2 separate regions of the Homo sapiens genome follow, and region 1 is linked to region 2. The links come from fine-mapping of genetic effects on gene expression. A gene starts in region 2. The other region holds a variant in brackets. All regions are shown on one strand. Distances are from middle to middle.

Evidence for each region.
Region 1: its variant is fine-mapped to the expression of ATP1A1 in whole blood (TOPMed, PIP above 0.99).

What each region holds. Positions count from the first base shown.
Region 1 is chr1:116,390,519-116,398,852 of GRCh38, forward strand. ATP1A1 (ATPase Na+/K+ transporting subunit alpha 1) reads left to right here. Exons shown (of 23, transcript NM_000701.8): 10 at 264-373; 11 at 2,336-2,470; 12 at 3,013-3,205; 13 at 4,592-4,767; 14 at 6,080-6,216; 15 at 7,370-7,520; 16 at 8,103-8,271. It overlaps ATP1A1-AS1 (ATP1A1 antisense RNA 1), which reads right to left. Exons shown (of 3, transcript NR_027646.1): 3 at 2,347-2,508. Among named protein-coding and RNA genes, the nearest start is that of ATP1A1, 21 kb to the left of the region's middle. The variant A/G (reference allele first, on the strand shown) is at 4,669.
Region 2 is chr1:116,368,840-116,377,173 of GRCh38, forward strand. It overlaps ATP1A1 (ATPase Na+/K+ transporting subunit alpha 1), which reads left to right and starts at 4,405. Exons shown (of 23, transcript NM_000701.8): 1 at 4,405-4,684. The coding sequence starts at 4,673. RefSeq lists silencers at 4,032-4,561, 4,992-5,291 and an enhancer at 5,662-5,781.

The DNA.
Region 1 (8,334 bases), 22 kb after region 2:
CTTTTTCTTTCTTTTTTGTTTTTTTTTTTTTTATCATTTAGTGAAGAGTCAAGGGTATGGGATATTGATTTTTTGCATGTCAGTAGAAACTTTAAATTGCCCTACAAACGTGACTGAAGAATGCCTAAAATGTGATTGGTTTCATTAATTGGGAAATGAGATGTATCACTGCAGATTTCTATGGGACTTTAATAGGAGAACTGAGAACACAGCCTTTGAAGTTAATGCATTGTTGTTCTGTTGTGTTTTCTTGCCTCCATCAGGTGTCTCTTTTGACAAGACTTCAGCTACCTGGCTTGCTCTGTCCAGAATTGCAGGTCTTTGTAACAGGGCAGTGTTTCAGGCTAACCAGGAAAACCTACCTATTCTTAAGGTATGCTCAAGAGTTAACTAATGGAGGGATGTAGACAGCACATGAGAACTGCCATTTGAGTGTTAAAAGTAGCAAATTACCTTTGTGGTCTGTGTGACTGTTCACTGTAGAACACCTGGAGTGGTCTGTGCAGTACTTTGCTGTGTGTAACTTACATTGTGTTGCCTGTAGATCCTGATGTATTATAGGACCCCCTGCTCCATATAGGTTGATTAAAAAGGGAAGATGCAGTAAAAATCTGACCAAAGTGGGAGGGGAGGAGACGGAAGACAGTCTTTATTGGTGAAAAACCTAATTCATCTGCTTTTACTACTCTTGAGTTTATATGTTATCACCTAACCTAGTGGACAGTGAGAGCTGAGGGCTGCAGTGACTCCATAATCGTATTTGCATATTAGGATACAGTAGATTCCAGTAACTCCTTTAAGCCATTTATTTTCCTGAAATAGCTCAGCTTATCTTATCTTATTGGTTCTTAGCTTGTTTACTAATGATGTAAAAATAAGCTCCAGGCCAAAATAAGCCCAGCCTTAGCCTGTGGAATTCTGATGCAGTTTGAAATGATTGAGATTTTACTATGCTGCCCAAGTGAAGATGCAGTCTCAGAAGGATCATGAATTGTACAAAGTCCTGTAGGAGAAGAAAGCTATGTGAGGCTCTCTGGGTCCCACATTCTCTGTGAAGCTGCCTGTAGTAGTTGTGGGTATAAACTAAGTTGCCAAAGGGAATATGGCTTGGATGTAACTCAGATGCCTTCTGTGATGAGGATAGGGTTCATTTATTCTGCAAAGGAGATTTTCTTGGCATTGAATTGATGTTGATTTGAGGATAATGTTGTGTATCTTGAGGATAAAACTTGAGATAAATGTTTCATGTTTTTCTTTACCTCAAAGTGGAAATGTTCTAGGCTTTGAGCATCAGGTCCCACAAGTATCAAATCTTTCCTGATTAAAAAACCCCAGAAAGGTAGCAGAAGCTGTATTCCAAGTATTTCTGGAGTTCGGCCATGTTGATGGCATTATTACTAAAAAGCGGGGAGGGAGAAGCAGCCCTATTCTGCTTTTATTAAAAATGGCTTTTATTAAAATAAGTGGCTTTTATTTAAAATGTCCCCCACTTATTTTGTGTTTCTTTCCAAACCCAGCCAACTTTCTTGCTCTGTGGAGCTGCTATACTTCTGAGCATTGATCTGTTCATCTGCATATGCAGCCTTACATGTTAAGGTTCTAAAAGGTTTACCTATATAAAATTTGTTTACAACTGAAAATGCTTTCAGTATGTCAAAATATAAGTGTGTCATCATGTATCATAGAAAATATGTGTGTCACTGAAGCATGGGCTTTAACTAAAATGTTACGTGGTTCGATTTTATTACTGTTGGAGTTGGTAATAGCTTTCAGTTCACATCCTTCAGGCCCAGTTAATTTTGCACAGTTATGATTAGAATGCACAGTCTTCTACTTTGCCCTTGACACAGGCAGCTTGTCCCCAGTCCTGAGACCTTAAGCATTTTCTTACGAATTCTACGGTAATGAAAGGTGCTATAAATGTTTAATCTCTCACTTGGTATTTTCAGATAAGTAACCAGAAGTAGGTAGTTGGGAATAGCATTGGCTTTGAGACTTTTCAGTAGGCCAGGGGAAGATAGAAATAGACTGCAGTAGGTTGGAAGGGTGTGTTAATACCTCTTCTAGGGAAGGTGACACCTTCCCACACCCTTCTTTCACTAGAAGCTGCTGTGGGGTGGGGAAGGACGTTGGGGTTTGAGTCTGAAGCACTGTGAACAGCAGTGGTCGGGGCTAGAGGGACTCCTGTCCCACTTAACACCGCTGCTTCCTTCTTGCCCATCCTCTGCTACCTCTGACAAGATTGGAATGTGTCTTGAGTTATTTTTCCTGTTTTTTAGTGATGCCTCAGTGAAATTTTTTGGAGATAATTTACAGATGATGTCTCTGTTCACAGCGGGCAGTTGCAGGAGATGCCTCTGAGTCAGCACTCTTAAAGTGCATAGAGCTGTGCTGTGGTTCCGTGAAGGAGATGAGAGAAAGATACGCCAAAATCGTCGAGATACCCTTCAACTCCACCAACAAGTACCAGGTCTGAAGATCGATGGGTACACGGAGGGCGAGGGCAAGCTGGGGGACAAAGAGGGGAGGTACATGAGCAGGAAGAGGAAATATTCTCCCTTTGGAGTTTTATAAGCTTTAGCTTTAAATTTTGCCCTTGATTACCATAGAATGCCATAATTTAGTTGAATATCAGCAGGATAAATGAAGCCTCTTGCAAAACACTGTTGAGCCCTTTTGAATACTTGTGGTTTGGGGTGGGTGTGGGCATGTGGGGAGGTGGCTGGAGGTATGTGTACACAAGTGTTCCCCAATCCCTGTGTTCTGAAATTTCGTATGTTCTTTTTTAATGTGAACAAATGTCAGGAATTTATGAATATATCATAGTGCTCATTTTTTTTTTTTTCTGTAGCATTCAAAGTATGTTACAGGTGTAAGATACTTCAGAGTTCAGAAAGAAGGGATCTTGGGTCTTTTATAGCAAATACTAAATAGTAAGTGAAGCTTTGTTTTCCACCATGGACTGCCACACATCCAACCATCCAATGTTTATGTCTCAACAATCCTTCACAGTTGTCTATTCATAAGAACCCCAACACATCGGAGCCCCAACACCTGTTGGTGATGAAGGGCGCCCCAGAAAGGATCCTAGACCGTTGCAGCTCTATCCTCCTCCACGGCAAGGAGCAGCCCCTGGATGAGGAGCTGAAAGACGCCTTTCAGAACGCCTATTTGGAGCTGGGGGGCCTCGGAGAACGAGTCCTAGGTATGCAGATAACCTGGTAACAGAGTGCCTGGGCACGTTTTTATCCAGTAACCTAGTCTGGTAGACAGTTAACAAGTGATCCTATGAACCTCTATGTCTTGTTGACCTTCCTCTACATCTTTTAGGGGCAATCCTCCTATTTGTTTATTTGCCCCCTATTATTTTGAAAACAATAAGTGCTGAAGAAATGTTCAGCGTATTGGGCTGTGAGAAACAACGTCCTGATGGTTTGCTTCTGACTTGTACTTAGACCTTTGGTCTCATGCTAGTCAGTTCTGTTTGTTTAAAAAAAAAAATGGTGGAAGAATATCTTTCTTATCTAACCTTTGTTGCTGTGGACATGACTTATAAGCCTAATTAAAGTTAATTAATTCTTAGTGTGTCTAAGTTAGACATACTATTTCCTGACTGCCTTGGAATGGGTGTGAATTTACATGAGCACTTATGTGCTCAGCTTAGAAACTAGACTAACGGTAAACTTTTAGTCTAAGATGCTACCTATTTTTTTCTACCCTGACAGCTACTGAGGCTGAGAAGTTCACTTTACCCATTGTCTAATGTATTTGGGAAAGTGGCATTTATAATACTTTGTAGGTTGACAGATACTACATTCATTATTTATATAATGCTTCCTATTCTTCTTAACTTGGGTAAATCTAACTCATGGTATCTTTCGTATGTGTCTATCCAACCGAAGGATTGCTATCTTCTCTTTAAGTGTTTTTCACTTCCCTACTTCCACCACCCCAAAGTGGAAGCAGTCTCTCTTCTTTTGAGTCCACATGGCACGTTAAAGATCATTGTAACGTCATACAACATTGAAAAGAATGTCTTACATTATCTTGATTCTTGTATTTACTATACTAGATGATAAACCCCCTGGGCAGAATGCATCTGATCTGTACTTATCCTCAAAAGTAGCTAGCATGATGTCCCACATTGGTGCTCAGTAATATGTTTCAGTTAAATGAACAAGAGAGCAGAGGTATGGCCTTGATGTTTCCAGAGAAGGCAGCTGAGGCAGATAATTCCATGATTTGCCAAATCCAAATAACTTAATGTCATCATCAGTGGGCAAGTCTAGAACCCTAATATCCTGGTGCTCAAAATTAGTGTTATCAATTCAGTCTTCTCCACATTAAACAATTTCCAATTCCTTTGAGGCCTGGTGTGATGGATTCTGTCTTTCAAATGCTTTTTTTCTTTCAGTGACTCTATCGTTCATAAATGTTAAATAAAACCCTCACTCTGTTATAAAAATATAGACTTTAAAAATTTTCCAAAGTAAACACTCCAGAGAAAGGTAGGCGGGCTGAATAGGCTGCTGTTGTCCTTCTTACTGCCCAGCGTCACTGAAATTTTCAAAGGCTCCTGTCCTCCTCGCAGGTTTCTGCCACCTCTTTCTGCCAGATGAACAGTTTCCTGAAGGGTTCCAGTTTGACACTGACGATGTGAATTTCCCT[A/G]TCGATAATCTGTGCTTTGTTGGGCTCATCTCCATGATTGACCCTCCACGGGCGGCCGTTCCTGATGCCGTGGGCAAATGTCGAAGTGCTGGAATTAAGGTAGTGCCCAGGCGCCTCCTTGGCTTCATCTCTTAGTGCCTTGGGACACCCTACTCAGTGAATGTTGCCTTTTGAGGTCCAGATGGCCAGCTGTTCTATCTCACCTGGAGTATTAATTTCTCATCTCCAAAGCTTTACTTCCACCCAGAAAAGACCAGATAGTATTAAAATATGATGGTGTAAACACACGAGGAATTAAAAATTTTTTGGAAAGCAATTGTGTAAAAAAGAAATGTAAGCAAAGTAAAAACAGCAAAAGACTTGAAGTTTTAAAATACTTGCATTATTCTAAGTTAATGTACCTTATGCAATGAATGGCATATCTTCTGTGTTTTCAGTTAACTGTTTGTTAATGAGTGTTTGGTGTCCTCTGTGTATCTGTCTTTTTTTAAGTAGCTGAATATTACTCAAGTGCACTAATATCCTGTTGCTGGGTATTTGGTTTCTGTTTTTTACTCTCAGGATTTTATTTTATTTATTTTTTGAGACAGAGTCTTGCTCTATTGCCCAGGCTGGAATGTCATAGCACGATCTCGGCTCACTGCAACCTCCGCCTCCCAGGTTCAAGCAATTCTCCTGCCCCAGCCTCCCAAGTAGCTGGAATTACAGGCACCCGCTACCACGCCCAGCTAATTTTTGTATTTTTAAGTAAAGATAGGGTTTCGCCACGTTGGCCAGGCTGGTCTCAAACTCCTGACCTCAGGTGATCTGCCCACCTCAGCCTCCCAAAGTGCTGGGGTTACAAGCGTGAGCCACCACACCCGGCCTACTCTCAGGATTAATACTGCCCTGAAAAGCTTTGTAGAAGTTATTTCCTCACCATTCCGACTGCTTCTTTTTAAAGTATATTCTAAGTATAATCACTGCATCAAAAAATAACAATTTTGAATTCTTGTCACATGTTGCTTTTCCTCCAAGTTGTGCCAATTTGAGAATGCTAGCCAGTAGCATGTGGTGTCTTCACAGTCCCACCAGCATCAGATTTTTATCCTTTTTTTTTTTTTTTTTTTTTGCTGGTTTTAGTAATTTTCAAGTATTTTTATGTAACTCTGTAGAAGGAAAAATAGACATTGTGTATGCTAGTGATTGTATACCAAGATAAAACCTGAGTATTGCCTTTGTGTTTCCTTTCTGTGGATATATATGTTTATATTTTTGGCTAATCGATGTTTATTAGTTTTATATTTGCATTCCTTTCCTTTTGATAGTCTAAGCCGAATCATCCTTAGTATTTACTCTTGCCTACTGGATATAAGACTTTAAGGTCATTTACTTGGCAGTTGCATTCAACACATTGTCTTGTTTATTACAGGTCATCATGGTCACAGGAGACCATCCAATCACAGCTAAAGCTATTGCCAAAGGTGTGGGCATCATCTCAGAAGGCAATGAGACCGTGGAAGACATTGCTGCCCGCCTCAACATCCCAGTCAGCCAGGTGAACCCCAGGTAAGGCAGGAAGCTCAAATCACAGTCTGCTGTGAACAAGCAAATAGTGATGGTTTAAAATCTTCAGCGTGGTTCTATAATGGTTTGCATCTAGGCTTGCTCTGAGTAGGAAATGTACCTGCACTGCCAGAAAGCAACCTTGTCATTCCTAAGAAGGGTTTTAAGTAAGAGCAAGTCATAATAATTAGCACTTAGATGGTATTTACTGTTCTAAGAGCTTGATATGGTGACCTATTATTTGCAGAGCAGGGAAGGTAAGGATTCAAGAGGCTTTTGAAGTACCTCAGAACTGGTGAAATCATGCAGTAAATTCAGCAGTCTAGCTTCTGATTTCATGCTGTTAACCACTGAGCTCTACTGCCTAGCACCTAGCATCTTGACACTTTCCAGGTCCACACTAACAAAATAAAATAAGGAAGGGACAATTACTTAGGCCATTCAGGCAAACACAGGAGACATTTGGCAATGAAGTAAAACAGATAATAGCAAATTGGTTTTGTTTTAAGGTTTAGGGCCCTTTCACCCTATGTTACGGTTAGAGGAGGGTTTGGTCTTGTATCAGCTCTGCCACTTTCTAAAACTTGGTTATATTTCTTTTTTTCTTTGATGGAGTCTCGCTCTGTCATCCCGGTTGGAGTGCAGTGTCATGATCTTGGCTCACTGCAACCTCCACCTCCTGAGTTCAAGTGATTCTCCTGCCTCAGCCTCCCAAGTAGCTGGGATTACAGGCCCCAACCACCATGCCCGGCTAATTTTTGAATTTTTAGACCACCATTTTGGCAAGCTGGTCTCGAACTCCTGACCTCAAGTGATCCACTCACCTCAGCCTCCCAAAGTGCTGGGATTACAGGCATGAGCCACACACCCAGCTAAAACTTGGTTATATTTCAGCATGTCTAATAAAGATAGGGAAAGGAAGAATACAGACAGGCCTGCCTTAGAGATCATCATGAGCCTCAAATGAGATAAAATATATGAAAATGCTCTGTAACCTGTAAAGTACTGAACACTTAATAGCTTTTATGTGCTGGGGAAAATTCCTTCTTTGTTTTGTTTACAAAGTGATCTGCATAAGAATATCCCCTCTTGAGGTGATGGACACATGCTGGTGATGTGATGCGTGACTTTTTTTTTTTTTTTGTCCTAATTCTAGGGATGCCAAGGCCTGCGTAGTACACGGCAGTGATCTAAAGGACATGACCTCCGAGCAGCTGGATGACATTTTGAAGTACCACACTGAGATAGTGTTTGCCAGGACCTCCCCTCAGCAGAAGCTCATCATTGTGGAAGGCTGCCAAAGACAGGTCAGCCAGCACAAGGATCAGGCTGCTTTGGGCACTATTGGCTTTAGGGATTGGAGTTCCAGTGGAAACAGAGCAACGGTGATGGATGGATGCATACCTCGCTGTATTAGACTCAGTATAAATAGGCCAGTAGGAAGCTCATAGGCATAGAGAGGGTGACTTGTTAATGGTTTAGCAGTGACAGAAGCACTTTAAAGTCCAGGTGTCCACTGTGTCCCAGAGCCTGACCGCTCCGTGGAGTCATCTGATATGGGGTCCTAGTATTTGCAATAGAGATGTGAGTGGTCAGACTACAGGGCGTGCATACAGGAATGGCATTTTCTGGAGTGCCACCCACCAGAGTCATTACTTTGAGTAGCTCTTGTTAATGCTGGGGGCTATGTTTGTTGTCACTTCTCAGTTCTGTTATTTGGTGTAGGGCCTGTGTGAATACTTGCCTGTGACGGTTCTCAGGCTTCATAAATAGTCTCAATAGGAAAGGAGCAGTGTCTGTAATGAGTGCTCAGTGGGGGCATGCATCGCACTATTTCCATCGCTAGGAAAAGTGATTGGTATTAACCCGTTTTCCCTTTTCTGGGGTAGGGTGCTATCGTGGCTGTGACTGGTGACGGTGTGAATGACTCTCCAGCTTTGAAGAAAGCAGACATTGGGGTTGCTATGGGGATTGCTGGCTCAGATGTGTCCAAGCAAGCTGCTGACATGATTCTTCTGGATGACAACTTTGCCTCAATTGTGACTGGAGTAGAGGAAGGTGAGAGCTATTTAAGGTGTACACCAAGATCTTATTCAGATACTGCCCATTAGCATCCATTTC
Region 2 (8,334 bases):
CTAAAGAATCCTTTATTACTGCTTTATTTACGAAGACCGCTATTAATAACAGCAAATTATTTAAAGGGCAGCTGGGTTAAAAGGATGCTGAGTAAAACACCAAGGACTTGATTCTGTTGTGGTTGGTGATAACCTACAATAGTTACCAAGTAAATGCAGACTCTTTCAAATTTCCCAGTTTCCCAGAGGCACAACCTGAAGTCTTCAACCACCACTAACAGGAGAAAATATGTTTAAAAGAATACTAAGGAGCTTTCAAAAGGATTAAGAAATGGCTCGGGGGCCGGGCGCGGTGGCTCACACCTGCAATCCCAGCACTTTGGGAGGCAGAGGCGGGCAGGTCACGAGGTCAGCAGATCGAGACCATCCTGGCTAACACGGTGAAACCCAGTCTCTACTAAAAATACAAAAAATTAGCCAGGTGTGGTGGCAGGCGCCTGTAGTCCCAGCTACTAAGGAAGCTGAGGCAGGAGAATCGCTTGAACCAGGAGGCGGAGTTTGCAGTGAGCCGAGATCGCGCCACTGCACTCCATTCTGGGGCGATAGAGCGAGACTCCGTCTCAAAACAAAGAAAAAAAAAAAGAAAGAAAGAAATGGCTCGGCTGCGCTCCATTCTGGGGCGATAGAGCGAGACTCCGTCTCAAAACAAAGAAAAAAAAAAAGAAAGAAAGAAATGGCTCGGCGTGGTGGCTCACACCTGTAATCCCAGCACTTTGGGAGGCTGAGGCAGGCAGATCACTTGATGTCAGGAATTCGAGAACAGCCTGGCCAACATAGTGAAACCCTGTCTCTACTAAAAATACAAAAATTAGCCTGGCACGGTGGTGCGTGCCTGTAATCCAAGCTACTCAGGAGGCTGAGGTACAAGAATTCCTTGAACCCGAGAGGCAGAGGTTGTAGCGAGCCGAGATTACACCACCGCACTTCAGCCTGGACAAAAGAGTAAGACTCCATCTCAAAAAAAACAAACCAAAAAAAAGGTAAGAATGGAGAGTCTGGGAGGAAAAGTTATAGGAGTCAGAATTATTTGCTGACAGATTTTGATAGTCAGCAATGCACCCAGAACTGTGCTTTTAAAGACAGGTGATATGTCTGCTGCTGAACAGAAGAAAAGGAAATAGATTTGCAATGGAGGCACAGAGATTTGCAATGGAGGCACAGATAATGGCTAGGGGGAACTTTGAATGATGAAGACAGTTGACTTTAAAGCAGCAAGAGTGGCTTTCTGGGTAACGTGGAAAATTCTGGATAATGTGGGAAATAGGTAAAGGATAAAGATGCATGCTTATGACTGTTTCCATGCTAACTCGGGAGCACACAAAGCCAAAGAAAATTCTGTCCTTCCAGATCTCTAGCTCATAGATCCCCAAAATTTTTGTGTCCTATGGAAAATGCTAAGTTGGTGTGGGCTCCAACTCATATTTTAAAGCCTTTAATTGCAATGATGTGTTTATTCAATTCAGCAAATACTCAAAGTGCTAGCGTTCTTGGCTCAAAAAACTGACTTGCATCATATTTTTCATACATCTGCTGACTCTATTCACAATGACTGGAGCAACCATCCACAGTTGTGATCAAATTCTCCTCGAAGCTATCCATACTTGGCAGCCTTAAGGTCTATAAATGCTGAGTCTCCAGGCCAATCAGTTTAACTGTGCCCCAAGTTAGAAGCTTGAAAAGAGTTGATAGGATAAGCAGCAGACAGAATAGAGAGCCTTTGCTTTCTTCACCCTCTCTTCTAGAATCCAAATTTGTCCCCTGCACTGGAGTTAGAAAAGCTACCTGAAAGTCTTGCCACTATTCTTGGAATATTCAATACCAATTACTCCCTGGGCCTCAGTTTCTTCATCATAAAATGAGGGAGCTTGATGTTTCATCTATAAGGTTTCATTTCATTCAGAAGCCACTCTTCCAAGGGAAGAAAAGAAGGCTTTTTCTTAAAAAAAAAAAAAAAAAAGGACTTTTCCTCCTTTGCTTACCCATTTTCCAAGGTGTCTCTCTCATATCTGAGATTTCCTTCTGCGCCTCAGACTTGGTCATGCCTTACCTTTTTCTTTACCTCAAAGACTTGTGAGAATTCAAGGGCACTGTGCATCTGAAATTACTGTGTGGCATCAAAAGCAAAATACAGATTTAAGATAATGTTTCTTATATTTTTTGCCCTTTCTTCACACCGGAACACAGCTAGAACTCTGGGATCCTCCTGAAAGGACCTTCAGCAATTTTCAGTTGCCAAATAAATAGCTCTAGATACAAAGGGAAGTGCCTTGATCTATCAGGGTTATTTTGTTGAGTGAATGAATGAGAATTTTACTTATGAGGGGAGAAAAAGGAGATCAGCTGGCAGGAGAAATCTACGTTGTTCCGACCCGTGCTTTATATATTTAGTTGTTGCCGCGGCACTTTTCCCATTCAGACCAGGGCCCAAGGAGTAATTAATCTTTGTTTTTATTTTTATTTATTTATTTTTTTGAGATGGATCCTCACTCTGTCACCAGGCTGGAGTGCAGTGGCGCCATCTCAGCTCACTGCAACCTCCGATTCTGTGGTTCAAGCGAATCTCCCGCCTCAGTCTCCCGAGTAGCTGGGATTACAGGCATGTGCCACTACGCCCAGCTAGTTTTTTTTTGTATTTTTAGTGGAGACGGGGTTTCACCAGGTTGGCCAGGATGGTCTTGATCTCCTGACCTCATGATCCGCCCGCTTCGGCCTCCCAAAGTGCTGGGATTACAGGCGTGAGCCACAGTGCCTGGCCCAGGAGTAATTAATCTTAAACAAGCTATCTTTAGCAAGCAAAAGCATCTTACAAAGTACAGTAACTGAGGCTATCAAGCATGTAAAGAAAGCATTTTCTAGAAGCTTAGAGATGGATCCCCGAACACTCTGTAACCCTCTGTTAACAGTCTAAGGAATTCTGTTCTGAATTTGGGGGCTCTTCTCCAGGCAGTCAGGGTTTTGAATTCTATTTACAATTCCTCTGCTCTCTATGGCCTAGAATGATTGAACCAAGTCTCTAGATCACTGTAGGAGACATCAACCTTTAACAATACATTCTTGAGGAGAAGAGACTCGTGTAAGAAACTATCTTGTAAGAAGGGATGAGAATTACCCTAATGATGTAACTGACAACACAGTTTCTAGTTTTTCCTTTCTTTCCTTCCTTCTCCATTTTTTCCAGTTTCATATCCTTGTTTGTTCATGCTACATGAATACTTGAAGTTGATAGAGTTGGCTTTAACTTAGGAACCTTTGCTTAGAAAGTCAATATCCTGGCCTTTCCCAGAGTACTTGACTTCCTGCAAACCTTGTTAATAATACTTTGTTTTTTAAAATGTTGGAGAACTTCAGCCATTGCAGCCTCTTGCTAAGAAGCAAAAGCTATAATGACAGAGAAGCCCCAAAGTGCAGTGGAACCAGGGATCTCCGGGGAGAGTGGTGGTTTCCTGGGCCCCCCCAGAGAACCCAAGGCTGTGCTGGAGATGCTGCCGTGACAGGTGGAGGCGTGGAGAGGCACCTGGCAAGTCCTCAAACGCCTCCCCCTTGATTTAGCTCCTCTAGCTAAGGATACGCATTCCTTTGGGTTTCAGGTTTTTCTTCCCTAAAAAGAGAATCCCCAAACTGGACAAGCAGGTTACATTCACACAATAGCGTGAATGAATTCGCTGGTCGCCCTTCAGATTCTCATTTTGGAATCTCGAAGAAAGAGAGGTGGTGGGAGGAGGGCGCTTGAAACTTCTGGCGATGCCAGTTCAGATCGATTCCAGCTATGACGGAGCGGGAAGTGGATAAAGAGGACCCCAAGTCACAGGAGGCACTCTGAGAGCACCAAGCGCCCGGGGAGGCCATCCGCAGGTGGGCGCGGGGCCTGGATTCCACAGAGGGGCGGAGTCCCTCAGTCAGGCGCTGGCTGCAATCACACCCGAGCGCCAGCCCCCTCCAGCATCCCTGAGTCCCAGAGGAGATCGCCGAAGCGCTGGAAAAGCCGTTCCGCCCACGACTTCTGGTGCCGGGTCGGCGGCGACTGGGGGAGCCCAGTTCCGAGACCGTACCGCACCCACTGCGGACCTCCTGGGCCCTACATAGTAGGCGGGTCATGCAGGGCAGCGGGAGGAGGGGCGTGGGAGGGCCAAGGCCGCCGAGTCCCCGCTGTTCAGCCAGCAGGAGCGCCCCGCAGCCCTCCCGGGACACGGTGGACACGCTTGTCCCAGACCTGGGCGCCCTCCTGCCGGGAGCCAGGACTGGCCGCAGCAGGCGCTGTCCGGGCCCGTGGGCGGGGTTTCGGGAGGGGGCGGAGCCAGGCCCACGGCCGGTGTCAGGTTGCTCCGGTAACGGTGACGTTTCGCGGCGTGGGCGGGGCCAGCACGCAGGTTGCATATTTTAGGAAGTGAGGAGGAGGCGCGGGCTGGAGCTGCGGCGGGGTCTGGGGCGCAGAGCAGCGGCGGGAGGAGGCGGACACGTGGCAACAGCGGTAGCAGCCCGGGCGGCGGCAGCAACAGCGGCGGCGGCATCGGCCCGAGCCGCCGGCCGCCCTCCCACCCTCCCGCCCCGCGGCAGCCCTAGCTCCCTCCACTTGGCTCCCCTGGTCCCGCTCGCTCGGCCGGGAGCTGCTCTGTGCTTTTCTCTCTGATTCTCCAGCGACAGGACCCGGCGCCGGGCACTGAGCACCGCCACCATGGGGAAGGGGGTGAGTGTCCGGCGCGCCCGGGGAGGGGGCTCGGGGAGCCCTCGAGGGGAAGAGGAGGAAGTCGGGAGGGCGACCGCGGCCAGCGGGAGGCGGCGGAGGAGGAAGCGGCGCCGCGTGGAGTGGGCTGGCAGAGCCGCGCGGCTTAAAAGACGACGCAGTTTGGAAATGGAGGGAGCGCAGTAACGGGGGGCGGGGGAAGGGAGCGCCGAGGGGCTGGAGCGCGGCATTGCTTAGGGGGGTGGGCGGACCCTGGGCGGGGGCTGCGCGCCCCGGAGGCCGAGCGGGCCGGGGGCTCCGAGAGGCGGTGCTTGGGAAGCCTCGGGGCCGGGAGGAGGGGGCTTGCAGCAGCGGGGGCGGCCCCGGGACTGAGCCGGCATCCCTGAGCCTGGCTCCCCTCCCTGCGACCGCCGTCACCTCCTTCTCCTTCCTTTTCCCTCCGCCCTCCGTGCCCTGAGGAAAGGCGCGCTCCTCCCCTTCCCCTGGGGCGCTCCGCCGGGGCCTCCTCCCGGGCCTCCGTTCCCGCCGCGGCCCCGGTTCCGGCGGGGGCAGCCTCCGGGTTCGGGGCTCCTTCTCCTGGGGACGCTGGGGCTTAGCTTGCTCCGCGCAGAGGCGGCCGCCCTCCCCCAAAGAAAAAACTGGCTGCTTCTAAGTGCGAAGCCGGCTGGGCGGGCTGGTGCCAGAAAGGGTGTGTCTTCACTGCCCTAAGATGGCCTTTAAGGTATACTTTTGAGGGCTTTCTTGGGCCACTTTCCGTAAACACAGGATGCACCGATGGCAACTGGAGTTGTCATCCGATGGTGGGGAGAGGCGTGCAGATTTTTTTTGAAGGGACGAGCCCTGAAGGAGGATAGGCAGACCCACCAGGGCCTCAGGGTACAAGAAACCCGAAAAAGGACTGGAGGCTGCAGGCAATACGGTGGTAGGAATCTCTGCCGGTTTCCAGCGTCGCGGAAGCACCAAAGGGCGGTCCCTGAAGGAAACGAGGGGTCTTGGGGCTGGAGAGCGGCGCGGAGCGTGGTGGGAATATCGTCACAACGCCGCTGTCCTACATTTCTGTAGCGAAGACTTGATTACCCCTAGCTATTACCCGTGCAGGAGACTGGGCCCTGGACCCCAAATGAGCCAAAGTCTAGTTGAGAAAAATTTACACAGAATAACCTCGGAGTTCATGGGGTGAAAGTGACCATGTCATGAGAATACAAATGGGAGAGAATCCACTTCGTTGTCTCCAGGGTTTAGCACAGTGCAGACACTGAGTAGGTCTTTGAAGGCCCTGAGGCTTCTGGGTGTAGACAGAGTGTCGGGAGCAGAGGGAGGCTGCACTCCTTGGGGACTCTAAGGGAGTTTTAAAGGAGGTAATTGAAAGGCTTGGACCTGGTGGGGAGAACAGGCACAAGTGGAAATGCACAACTCGCCTCGCTTTTAAAAGCATGCAGCGTGGAGGGCTGGTCCAGGTCAGGTGGCATCAAAGAGCGGAGTACAGGGCCTCTCCATTCCCCTGATGGAGTCTGGGTTAGTGGCCTGTGCTTTTACCACACCGTCAAACCCTTGATCATTTCTGTAAACATGCACTTTAAAGCTCATTCTTTGTCTCTCCTGCCTTAAAAGAAAAAGAAAAAAGTTTACTTCCTGAGCTAATTTTGGGGGGTTTAGACATCACAGATGTGTGCCCCAAGCCTAGGAAGGTGAAGTGACTTGCTCAAGGTCAAACGGTTGGCTAGTGACAGACTAGGCGTCCCTGATTCTTGAACAGCCTGTGGCCTCAAGCCTGAACATGCATTTACTCTTTAACATTGAGTTCTTTATACAGAACTCAGAACTTCGGATGAAACGGGGTATTTGTGATGTTGAATTAATAGGCCATGGAGATGGTTTGGGTAACTAAGTTATGTCCATTTATCTAGATGTCTCCTTTATAACCACACACAGGCACACATGCACAGTAGTGATGCGGTGGTAACCCACCTGAATAGTTAGTAGAGCTTAAACCCAGATGTCTTACAACAAAATGTATAGTGGCTAGCAAACACAAGATTAAATTACAGCTGCGAACACTGGGATGATGAGCTGCTTGGCTGCTGGGTGGTAGTTAGCATTTTGAGTATTCTGATACATTAAACATTAGTTTACTTGTGTGTGTGTTTGTGTGTGTGTTTGTCCTGTGACTTATTGTGAGCGTCCAAATGTTCAGAAGAATATTTCATGTTGGGATTTTTCCACATGGGGATTAAAATGTGGGTGGAGAGTGACTAAAGCCCTGCTGATAATTGGCTAACAAGGAAGCCTGTGCCGGCAGCTAATTTTTAAGGTCATTGTAAATTTCTTCCCCTCCTCTCCTCAGTACCCTTTGTGGCCTAGCTTTTGATGATATTTCAGGTGATTTTATATGTCCTTAAAAGTCTAGTTCCTAAGCATTTGGTAAGAAAATGAAAGAACAGCTCTTGCTGAATCATTCCTGGATGAAATAGGATTTTGTCCCTTTTTTTCTTTCTGGGTTTTATTGCCAGTGACTTGGCTTAAACCGTCAGCTAGGCCTACCACCGGCAACTGTTTCACTCACCAAAGGTACACGCCATAACTGTTTAGAAATGTGGGAAAGTTTGTCTTCTCAAGTGTGTAAAAGATGAGGAGGGGGGGTCTCACCAGGTCTTTCACTGCATTCCGGATTTAGTTTGAATATTATTTACCGAAAAAATAAATCATAGCTTATGAGTAGTGATTTAAGGAAGGGCAGGGAAAAAAGGTTCCAGTGAAGGTGGCAGGGGGGATGCACATGTCAGCAGAAATCCTGGTTGTATGGTAATGTTATCAGCTGCCCTTTTGGAGCTCAGCTTGAAAGTGTGACTAAAGCTCCTCTGGCTGCTATAAAGCTAGTACTTTAGACTTAAAGCATTGTAAGGCAGATGCCTCAGAGTGGAAAGTTGCCCGGGCCTGGCCGGGAGCTAGTGGAGCAAGTTACAGGAAGAACTAGTGCCTAGAGCTGGGGGGTGGAGAGAGCACTTGTGCCTCACCCTTTGCCTGTCAGTTGTTCAGCGTGTAACAGTTCCCTGCTTCTTAGGTTCTTTCTGTACCCTTTTATAAGGGTGTATCCCCTTTTGGTAACTTACTGTTTGTTAATTTGTAGTGTTCCCTGCCAGTAAGCTTGTAACACTCTAGTGACTCACCTTCGGGTGGGAGGGTAGGAAAGGGAGAGGCCTGCCTCCTAAACCTGGGAAGATGGGGAGAGAGTGGTAAACCTGAGAGCCCAAAAAACAAACCAAAACAAAAAAACAAAAAAAAAGATGCCTTTAAAAATTCAGTTAGATGTTTGCCCAGATGAGGGCTAACACTTAAAATATACAGATTCCTGGGAATGTTATTCCTAAATTGCATTCAAAAATAAAAGTGAACTCAACATCTTATAGCACAATAGGCTTGGCACTCATCCATGCTCCATGCCAGTACCCTCAGTCATTGTTTTCGGATTATTTTAGCAACAAATGAACAGATAAGTGACTTTCCATTCAAATCAGGCTATGTTCTTTTAAATATATCTAAACTTAAGAATAAGAAAGGCTTTAACTAAAATAGCTTTGAAGGATTTTGTATGGTAAAGTAAAATTGGTTTCTTCACTTAAAAACAAACAGGTTTAAAAGTAAAATAAAATAAA